2 separate regions of the Homo sapiens genome follow, and region 2 is linked to region 1. The links come from fine-mapping of genetic effects on gene expression. A gene starts in region 1. The other region holds a variant in brackets. All regions are shown on one strand. Distances are between the middles of the regions.

The links. PIP is the estimated chance that this variant, and not a neighbour inherited with it, causes the effect. A credible set is the group of variants that fine-mapping cannot tell apart.
Region 2: its variant is the best candidate, but not a certain one, in a credible set for the expression of SLC39A13 in whole blood (TOPMed, PIP 0.79).

The regions. Positions count from the first base shown.
Region 1 is chr11:47,405,856-47,411,228 of GRCh38, forward strand. It overlaps SLC39A13 (solute carrier family 39 member 13), which reads left to right and starts at 2,735. Exons shown (of 10, transcript NM_001128225.3): 1 at 2,735-2,807; 2 at 4,232-4,540. The coding sequence starts at 4,240. SLC39A13-AS1 (SLC39A13 antisense RNA 1) reads right to left here and starts at 3,427. Exons shown (of 4, transcript NR_182308.1): 1 at 3,097-3,427. RefSeq lists enhancers at 2,017-2,839, 3,128-3,994, 3,995-4,859 and a silencer at 2,248-3,037.
Region 2 is chr11:48,279,647-48,285,019 of GRCh38, forward strand. No RefSeq gene overlaps it. Among named protein-coding and RNA genes, the nearest start is that of OR4X1, 18 kb to the left of the region's middle. The variant G/A (reference allele first, on the strand shown) is at 2,533.

The DNA of each region.
Region 1 (5,373 bases):
AGTGAACCGAGATCATGCCACTATACTCCAGTCTGGGTGACAGAGTGAGACCCTGTCTCAAAAAAAAAAAAAAAAAAAAGAGAAAGAGAAAGAGATTTTATATAGTGAGATTTTCATATATCTGAGATGAGATTTGATATATGTATACAATTTTACACATTGCATACATGTGATCATATACACCTTTTATTTATTTATTTTGAGATGGAGTTTCGCTCTTGTTGCCCAGGCTGGAGTGCAATGGCGCGATCTCGGCTCACTGCAACCTCTACCTCCCAGGTTCAAGCGATTCTCCTGCCTCAGCCTCCCGAGTAGCTGGGATTACAGGCATGCGCCACCACACCTGGCTGATCTTGTATTTTTAGTAGAGGGGGTTTCTCCATGTTGGTCAGGCTGGTCTTGAACTCCCGACCGCAGGTGATCTGCCCACCTTGGCCTCCCAAAGTGCTGGGATTACAGGCATAAGCCACCATGCCCAGCCATATATGGCCATACACATCTTTTAATGTGTTGTTTTCCTTTAACATTTTTTCCTTCCCTATTCACATTAGTTCCTCCCACCATAGAATCCATAATATCACTTTAATGTGTTATCTATGTTTTTTATGTATTCATTATACATAGACTTATATATACTGATACCTTTAATCACATACACATATACAAGGTTTCTTTTTGTCATTATTTTAAAATAGTCTCTTAAAAAATAAAAATAGTGGATCATATTAAATAAATATTTCTGCATCTCACTTTTCTCACACACCTGGAAACCCCTGCAATTTTATTAATTTGTAATTTTTTTTATTTTTTTATTTTTGAGACAGGGTCTCGCTCTGTTACCCAGACTGGAGTGCAGTGGCACGATCAGGGCTCACTGCAGCCTTGACCTCCCGGGTTCAAGCAATCCTTCCACCTCAGCCTCCTGAGTAGCTGGGGCTACAGGTGCGCACCATTACACCTGACTAATTTTAAATTTTTTTGTAGAGACCAGTTCTCAGTTTGTTACCCAGGCTGGTCTGGAACTCCTGGGCTCAAAAGATCTTCCTTCCTAGGCCTCCCAAAGTGCTGGGATTACAGATGTGAGCCACCGGGCCTTAGGTATCCGATGGGAATTCCAGGCCAGGTGGGAGGAAAGGGTAGTGCATTGGCACCAAGTAACGTTTCTGGCTGGGTCTTGCCCATCCCCTTGTTGGGTGGCCAGGAGCGCTCAGCCTCCAGAGGCAGGAATGCTGACTGTGTTATTGTGAAATCATTTGCATATTGTGAAGTGCTTTGCATAAGATGGAGCGCTTTTGCATACAGGGAGGGGGGCATTTTAGAAGTCCTAGGGCAGGATCCCTGAGTAGCTTTTCTTTGCCAAGAAACTAACCCAGGGATTCCATTTTGGAACTCAGGGAGGGAACAGAACGTCCTGGCAGTTGTATGGGCCCGGTGGGGTGAGATGGACAGAAAGCTTCAGAAGACAAGCTGGGCCACCAGGGAGAAGTTGGCGGTCTAAGGAAGGCCAACAGTGCAACATGAAGTGGGACAGGCACCAGAGGCAGCCCTGAGAGCTGAGTGTGCTCTCAAGAGCCCCAGCAGAGGGGAAAGTGACAGAGTAAATGGTTGGAGCTGCCATGGGAGGCTGATGAGGGTCAGAGACTTAAGAGACCTGTACTCAGTCGCTATCTCTGCCCAAGTGAGTACCCACATGCCCCTTCCTGAATCTTCTCCTGTACTGGCTGATTTCCAGAGAAGAATACAAACTCGAAACGCCAAGCCAGACTCCCACTGCTGTTCAGGACCTAGACGTGAGAAGTGGTATCACATACTCTGGCTTCAGGACACCCAGGTTTGAATCCTGGCTCTGCCATCTGTGCCACTGTGTGACCCTGGGCTAACAGTACCCACCACAATGGGATAATATGAGGATTCAGTGAGATAGTGCGAGTAAAGTGAATAGCACATAGTAGGTGGTCAGTAAATTGCGGTTATAAGAACTGCTATCCAGTGTTTGCTGCCTTAGTCTAACCAAAGAGGTCAGGTCTAGCTTCCTCCAGGTGAGGGAAGCACAGAGCCCTCGCCTCCCAGGTTTGGAGTTCCCATCAGCAGGGTCCAGCCACCATGCATTGGACCCCAAAGGGTTACAAGCCCTGGAGACAGTGGCCTGAGGTTCCCAGTGAAAAACCAAAGCATAAAAATAATTCGATGAGTAAGAATAAAATTCCCTCTTCTGAGGTTCCCGGGGCCAGGCCCCTCCCTGCGGCAGGCACTTCCCCTTTCCCTTGCTCATGGAGGAGCCAGGCCGGGCTGACTCAGAGCAGGAGCGCACAGTAGTCCTCCCAGCCCGACCTGGGCGGCGTGGTCTGGCGGCCGGGCGCGCCCCCGTGCGGCCACGGGCAGACTGCGGCCCTGGACGGGAAGCGGCGGCCAGATCCGCAAGCCCCGCAGCCTGGTCGATCGCGGTCCCCGCAGAGCCGCCGCTTCCGTCCCTGCCCAGCCTGGCTGAGCGCGGTGCGTGTGGCTCTCTCACTTCCGACCGACCCTCCCCTCCGGCCCGCAGCCCTGCCCAAACGGAAGTGCGCCCTCTACCCGGGTCCCCCACCGCCGCGAGGCGGAAGCGCCCTCCCGCCGCCACTCCCCCCGACCCCGCGGCACGCGGCGCCTCGGGTTCCGGACAGGCCCCTTGTGACGTGGCCGCGCGCCGGGGGCGGCCCCGGGCCGGGGGCCGGGCGGCCGGGCGGCCGGGCGGGGCAGAGCCTGGGCGGGGCGCGGCACCGCAGCTGGATGGCTGGGGCCGCCCGGATCGCCGCCGCCGCCGCCGCACGGTGAGTGCCAGCAGGACCCTCGGGGCCCGCGCCCCGGGCGTGATGGACCCGGCCGATCCCTCGCCCCGTCCGACTGGTCCTCATCAGACCTGGGCCGGCTCCCAGGACCCGGGAGTCAGGCTCGCCCGCTTCGGCCTCCTCTCCCCCATCGCTCCGCGCCCCACGCCCCATCCCTCCCTCGCTGTCCTCTCCGCGTCCCACCCGCCTCTCTCTAGCTCTCTCACTCTCTACTTTCCTCTCCCCTTGGACTCTCCGTGTATTCCCTCCCGCTAGCCTGTGGTCCCCTCACCTCTGCGTGACCGCCTCGTCCTGGCCCAGTCTTGCCTGTGGTCCCCAGTGGAGCCCCGCTGGCTTCATCAGTGCCCCTGATTAGTTAAGGCCTGGAGGTCCTAGACATGGGCATCTCTGCCACCACCCAGAGGCAGCTGCTTTCTTCCCCTCCCATCTCCATCAGAAGGTGAGGAAACTGAGGCAGGGACATCACCAGCTCAAGGTCACAGCCAGCCTGAGGCAGAGCAGACCACATTTAAACCTCATGCCCGAGTTTCCAGATGGAACTTCTCGCTTGGTTGACTCACGTCCACATCCTGTGATCGGCCGGCTGGGCACATTCCTGCTGCAGGGAGCCCCAGGCCTTCCCTGGCACAGGCAGGGCCTCTGCGCCTCCTCATGCCGGGTACATCCACCTGCACTTTCAGGCTTATCTCGTCCTCACAGCTGAGGCAGGTGATATTGATCCCTGTCCTGCAGATGAGGGCACTGAGGCTCAGAGGGGGGGCTTCAGAGATTTGCCCAGAGTTAGACAGCTCAAAGTGCAGCATAGAATTCACCGTGGGGGCTCTAAAGCCTGCGCTATACAAGAGAGAGGCATCCCCTGGCTAAAGGCTCCTTCCTCATCAGCCCCATCTCCTGTTGCCCTCAGTGCCCTGGGGACATTGGTCTCATGTCCTAGGAAGAAGCGTGGATGGTCTTGCCCTGGCTCATCTGCTCAGTTTCCCCACGTATGTCTCTCTGAATCCACCCCATCCCCTTAGAAGGGGTGCCTCAGTCTCTGGGGTGTCGCGGGCGGCAGGGCCTCCCCTGGCAGCCAGAGACACCCAGCTGGGCCGGGCCGTGCCGCCGGTGGCTGAGGAGAGCCAGCCAGCGCCTCACCCTGTCATTAGGGAAAGTTTAGCCTCAGGCGGAGGTGCTGACACAGTCTGGAGCTGCTCAGAAGGAAAAAATACGCAGTGCTCAGGAGTAGGGTGTGGAGACACAGGGCCCCATTGCTGTGCACCCAGCATTTGGATGCTCAGACGCTCTGGCAAGGACAGCAGGAGGGTGGATGCCAGGGTCCCTTGCGGGGAGGAGGGAGGCGCCACGTTTCCTAAGCAGGTGTGCGGCCAAGGCTGTAGCTCATATAGGTGGCCTTTTGTGTTTTTCAGTACGTGGCATGCCTGGATGTCCCTGCCCTGGCTGTGGCATGGCGGGCCCAAGGCTCCTCTTCCTCACTGCCCTTGCCCTGGAGCTCTTGGAAAGGGCTGGGGGTTCCCAGCCGGCCCTCCGGAGCCGGGGGACTGCGACGGCCTGTCGCCTGGACAACAAGGAAAGCGAGTCCTGGGGGGCTCTGCTGAGCGGAGAGCGGCTGGACACCTGGATCTGCTCCCTCCTGGGTTCCCTCATGGTGGGGCTCAGTGGGGTCTTCCCGTTGCTTGTCATTCCCCTAGAGATGGGGACCATGCTGCGCTCAGAAGGTAGGTGACTCTCCGGTGGCGCCCAGGGCTGGCCAGGGTGTGGGAAGCATGCTGCTGCTCTTCTTAGGAGACCCCAGGTCACAGAGTGTCTGAGATGGAGGGAGAGGATAGAATAGAACTTCTCCCCTTGGTCCTGTAGGAGCTATCTAGCCAGGGGCGGCTGGCTCTGGCTTCCCCAGGAAGCTATGAGCACCTGGTAGCAGGGCCTGCCCCTGGGGAGGGGGTCTAGGAGATGGGGATGTGGGCACGGGTGGGAGCTTTGTCCTGACTACCCTTTTGTACCATGAGCATGTACTGCCCGTTCACAAATAACATGTTGTAACAAAACACGCAGGAGAGCTCTAGGGAGCTGCTAAGAATGCACGTGCCTATCCCCCACCTAAGAGGGGTGGACCAAGGCCCTGGGAATCTGTTAGAAACGAGCATCCCAGGGGCTGGTGCTGCCAGCTGGATGCTCAGGAACCATTCACTTACCAGATGGTTACCCAGCAGCTCTGTGCCAGGCACTGGGCTGAGGGCGGTGCCACAGCTGTGAATAGAGCCCTGCTTGGGCCATGGTCAGGCCTGTGCTCAACCCTCAGAGCAGCCCTGCGGGGTCAGTGCAGGGAGCACCTGGATTATTAGTTCCATTTTACAAGTGGGGATGCACAGGCACAGAGAGGTTCTTTGACCAGTCCAAGGTCACCCAGCCAGGAAATAGCAGTTTCCCCTGGGATCCCACCCCAAACCCAGCTGCCTCTGTCCTCTAGGCCTCAGTTTCTCTATCAAGCCAAAGGGTTGGACATGGCTTTCAGGCAGGCGACTTCCAACCCTGGATGCTGCAAGTCCCCAAA
Region 2 (5,373 bases), 870 kb after region 1:
ACCCAATGTGTAGTTTTTTATCACTCACCCCACCATCTTTCCCCTGCATTCCCAAAGTCCATTACATCATTCTTATGCCTTTGTGTCCTCATAACTGAGCTCCCACTTACAAGTGAGAACCTATGATATTTGATTTTTCACTTCTGAGTTACTTCACTTAGAATAATGGTCTCCAACTCCATCCAGGCTGTTTCAAATGCCATTATTTAATCCTCTTTATGGGTGGGTAGTATTCCATGATGTATATATGACATATTTTCTTTATCCACTCATTGATTGATGGGCATTTGGGCTTGATCCATATTTTTGCAATTGTGAATTGTGATGCTATAAATATGCATGTGCAAGTGTCTTTCATTTAATAACTTTCTCTAGGTAAATACCCAGTAGTGGGATTGCTGGGTCAATAGTAGTTCTACTTTTAGTTCTTTAGGGAGTCTCCATACTGTTTTATGTAGCGGTTGTACTAGTTTACATTATCACCAGCAGTGTAAAATTGTTCCCTTTTCACCACATCCACACCAACATCTATTATTTTAAATTTTTTGATTAAGGGCATTCTTGCAGGAGTAAAGTGGTATTGCATTATCATTTTGATTTGCATTTCCCTGATAATTAATGATATTGAGCATATTTTCATGTTTATTGGCCATTTGCATATCTTCATTTGAGAATTATCCATTCATGTCCTTAGCCCACTTATTGATTGGATTATTTGCTTTTTCTTGCTGATTTGAGTGTCTCGCAGATTCTGGATATTAGCCCTTTGTCAGATGCAAAGTTTACAAATATTTTTTCCCATTCTATGGGTTGTCTGTTTACTCTGTGGATTATTTCTTCTGCTGTGCAGAAGCTTTTTAGTTGAATTAAGTCCCATCTACTTATTTTTGTTTTTGTTGCATTTGCTTTTGGGTTCTTGGTCGTGAACTCTTTGCCTAAGCCTACATCTAGAAGAGTTTTACTGATGTTATCTTCTAGAATTTTTTATGGTTTTAGGCCTTAGATTTAAGTCTCTGATCCATCTTGAGTTGATTTTTGTGTAAGGTCACAGATGAGGATCCAGTTATATTCTTCTACATGTGGCTTGCCAGTTATCTCAGCACCATTTGTTGAATAGGGTGTCCTTTCCCCACTTTATGTTTTTGTTTGCTTTGGTGAAGATCAGTTGGTGGCAAGTATTTGGCTTTATTTCTTGGTTCTCTATTCTGTTCCATTGGTCTACATGACTATTTTTATACCAGCACCATGCTGCTTTGGTAACTATAGCCTTGTAGTATAGTTTGAAATTAGGTAATGTGATGCCTCCAGATTTGTCCCTTTTGCTTTGTCTTGCTTTGACTATGTGGGGTCTTTTCAGTTCCATATGAATTTTAGAATTTTTTTTGTAGTTCTGTGAAAAATGATAATAAATACTTTGATAGGAATTGCATTGAATCTGTAGATCGGTTTTGGCCGTATGGTCATTTTCACTATATTCATTCTACCCATCCGTAAGGAAGGGATGTGTTCCCATTTGTATCATTGATTTCTTTCAGCCGTGTCTTGTAGTTTTCCTTGTAGAGGTCTTTCATGTCCTTGGTAAGGTATATTCCTAAGTATTTTATATTATTTTATTTTTTGCAGCTGTTGTTAAAAAAGATTGAGTTCTTCATTTGTTTCTCAGCTTTGTCATTGTAGGTGTATAGCAGTGCTACTGATTTATGTACATTGATTTTGTATGCTGAAACTTTACTGAACTCATTTGTCAAATCTAGGAGTGTTTGGTTGAATCTTCAGGGTTTTTTAAGTATACAATCATATCATTGGTGAACAGCAACAGTTTGACAACCTCTTTACTGATTTGGATGCCTTTCATTTCTTTCTCTAGTCTGATTGCTGTGGCTAGGAGTTCCAGTACTATGTTGAATAAAAGTGGTGTAAGTGGGCATCCTTGCTTTGTTCCAGTTCTCAGGGGAATACTTTCAACTTTTCCCCATTCAGTATAATGTGGGCTGTGGGTTAGTCATAGATGGCTTTTATTACCCTGAGGTATGTCCCTTCTATGCTGATTTTGCTGAGGGTTTTAATCATAAAGGGATGCTGGATTTTGTCAAATGCTTTTTTCTCCATCTATTGAGATGATCATACGATTTCTGTGTTTAATTTTGTTTATGTGATGTATCACATTTACTGACTTGTGCATGTTAAATCATTCGTGCATACCAGTTATGAAACTCACTTGATCATGGTGTATTATCTTTTTGATATGTTGTTGGATTTGGTTAGCTAGTATTTTGTTGAGGATTTTTGCATTTATGTTAATCAGGGATATTGGTCTTTATTTTTTTTTCCATTATGTCCTTTCCTAATTTTGGAATTAGGTTGATATTGGCTTCATAGAATGATTTAGGGAGATTTCCCTCTCTCTGTCTTTTGGAATAGTATTAAAGTTGGTACCAATTGTTCTTTAAATGTCTGATAGAATTCATCTGTGAATTCATCTGGTCTTGGACTTTTTTTGTTGGCTTTTGTTTTACTACTGTTAATATTGCT[G/A]CTTGTTATTGATGTGTTCAGAGTTTTCTATTTCCTTCTGATTTAATTTGGGAGGGTTATATATTTCCTTGAATTAATCCATCTCCTCTAGGTTTTCTAGTTTGTGTGAGTAAAGGTGTTCATAGTAGCCTTGAATGATCTTTAGTATTTCTGTGGTATCAGTTGTAATATCTCCTGTTTTATTTCTAATTGAGCTTATTTGGATTTTTTCCTCTTCTTTTCTTGGTTATTCCCACTAATGGTCTATCAGTTTTGTTTATCTTTTCAAAAAATAAGCTTATTTCATTTATCTTTTGAATTATTATTTTTTGGTTTCAATTTCATTTAGTTGTGCTCTGATCTTTGTTATATCTTTTCTTCTGCTGGGTTTTGGTTTGGTTTGTTCTTTTTTCTCTAGTTTCTTGAGGTGTGACTGTAGATCCTTGAGGTATGTCTATTTGTGCTCTTTCAGACTTTTTGATATAGGCATTTAATGCTATGAACTTTCCTCTTAGCACTGCTTTTGCTGTATCCCAGAGGTTTTGGTAAGTTGTGTCACTATTATCATTCAGCTCAAAGAATTTTAAAATTTTGATCTTGATTTCATTGTTGACCCAATGATCATTCAAGAGCAGATATTTTAATTTCCATGTATTTGTATAGCTTTTGATGTTTCTTTTGGAGTAAATTTCCAGTTTTATTTCACTGTGGTCTTGGATACTTGATATAATTTTGATTTTCTTAAATTGATAGAGACTTGTTTTAGTGGCCTATCATATGGTCTATATTGGAGAATGTTCCATGTGCTGATGCAAAGAATGTATATTCTGCAGTTGTTGGGCAGAATGTGCTGTAAATATCTGTTAAGTCCATTTGTTTCAAGCCATAGTTTAAGTCCGTTGTTTCTTTGTTGACTTTATGTCTTGGTAACCTTTCTAGTGCTGTCAGTGGAGTATTGAAGTCCTTTGCTATTATTGTGTTGCCATCTATCTCACTTCTTAGGCCAAGTAGTAATTGTTTTATAAATTTGAGAGCTCCAGTGTTAGGTGCATATATATTTAGAATTTTCCTATTGGACTATACCTTTTATCATTATATAATAATGATTTTTTTGTGTTTTTAAACTGTTATTGCTTTAAACTCTATTTTGCCTGATTTAAGCATAGCTACTCCACTTGCTTTTGGTTTCCACTTGTGTTGAACTTGTTTTTGGTTTCCACTTGGGTTGAACCCCCTCCTGTTCATCTTAAGTTTATGTGAATTCTTATAGGTTAGGCGAGTCTCTTGAAGACAGCAAATACTTGGTTGCTGGATTTTTATCCATTCTGTCATTCTGTATATTTTAAGTGGAGCATTTAGGCCATGTACATTCAATGTTACTATTGAGATGTGAGGTACTGTTCTGTTCATCATTTTAGTTGTTGTTGCCTTAATACTTTTTTTCTTTCCATTGTGCTATTGTTTTGTAGACTCTGAGAGTTGTAATTTAAGGGGTCTCTATTTTGGTGTATTTCAAGGTTTTGTTTCAAGATTTATAACTCCTTTTAGCATTTATTTTATTTTATTTTATTTTTATTTTACTTTAGGTTTCAAAATACATGTGTAGAACATGCAAGTTTGTTATATAGTTACACTTGTGCCATGGTGGTTTGCTGTACCTATCAACTTGTCATCTAGGTCTTAAGCCTCACCTGCATTAGGTGTTTGTTCTAATGCTTTCCCTCCCCTTCCCCCCAACCCCTGATAGGCCACAGTGTGTGTCATTCCCCTCCCAGAGTCCATGTGCTCTCATTGTTCAACTCCCATTTATGAATGAGAATCTGTGGTGTTTGGTTTTCTGTTCCTGTATTAGTTTGCTGAGGATGATGGCTTCCAGCTTCATCCATGTCCCTGCAAAGGACATAAACTTCTTTTTTATGGCTGCATAGTATTTGCTGGGGTATAGGTACCACATTTTCTTTATACAGTCTATAACTGATAGGCATTTGGGTTGGTTCCATGTCTTTGCTATTCTAAATAGTGCTGCAATAAATATGTGTGCATGTGTCTTTACAGTAGAATGATTTATATTCCTTTGGGTATATACCCAGGAATTGGATTGCTGGGTCAACTGGTATTTCTGGTTCTAGATCCTTGAGAAATCACCACACTGTCTTCCACAATGGTTGAACTAATTTACATTCTCACCAACAGTGTAAAAGTGTTCCTATTTCTCCGCAGCCTCACCAGCATCTATTGGTTCTTGCCTTTTTAATAATTGCCATTCTGACTGGTGTGAAATGGTATCTCATTGTGGTTTTGATTTGCATTTCTCTAATGATCAGAGATGTTGAGCTATTTTTCATGTTTGTTGGCCACATAAATGTCTTCTTTTGAGAGGCATCTATTCATATCCTTTGCCCACTTTTTGAGGGGCTTGTTTATTTTTTTCTTGTAAATTTGTTTAATTTCCTCATATATTCTGGATATTAGCCCTTTGTCAGATGGGTAAATTGCAAAATTTTTCTCCCATTCTGTAGGTTGTCTGTTCACTCTGATGCTAGTTTTTTTCCCCTTTGGAGGAGTTCTTTAGTTTAATTGATCCATTTTGTCAATTTTTGCTTTTGTTGCAAATGCTTTTGGTGTTTTAGTCATGAAGTTTTTGCCCATGCGTATGTCCTGAATGGTATTGCCTAGGTTTTCTTCTAGGGTTTTTATGATTTGGGGTTTTACATTTAAGTCTTTAATCCATCTTTAGTTAATTTTTGTATAAGGTGTAAGGAAGGGGTCCAGTTTCAGTTTTCTTCATATGGCTAGCCAGTTTTCCCAGCACCATTTATTAAATAGAGAATCTTTTCCAAATTGCTTGTTTTTGCCATGTTT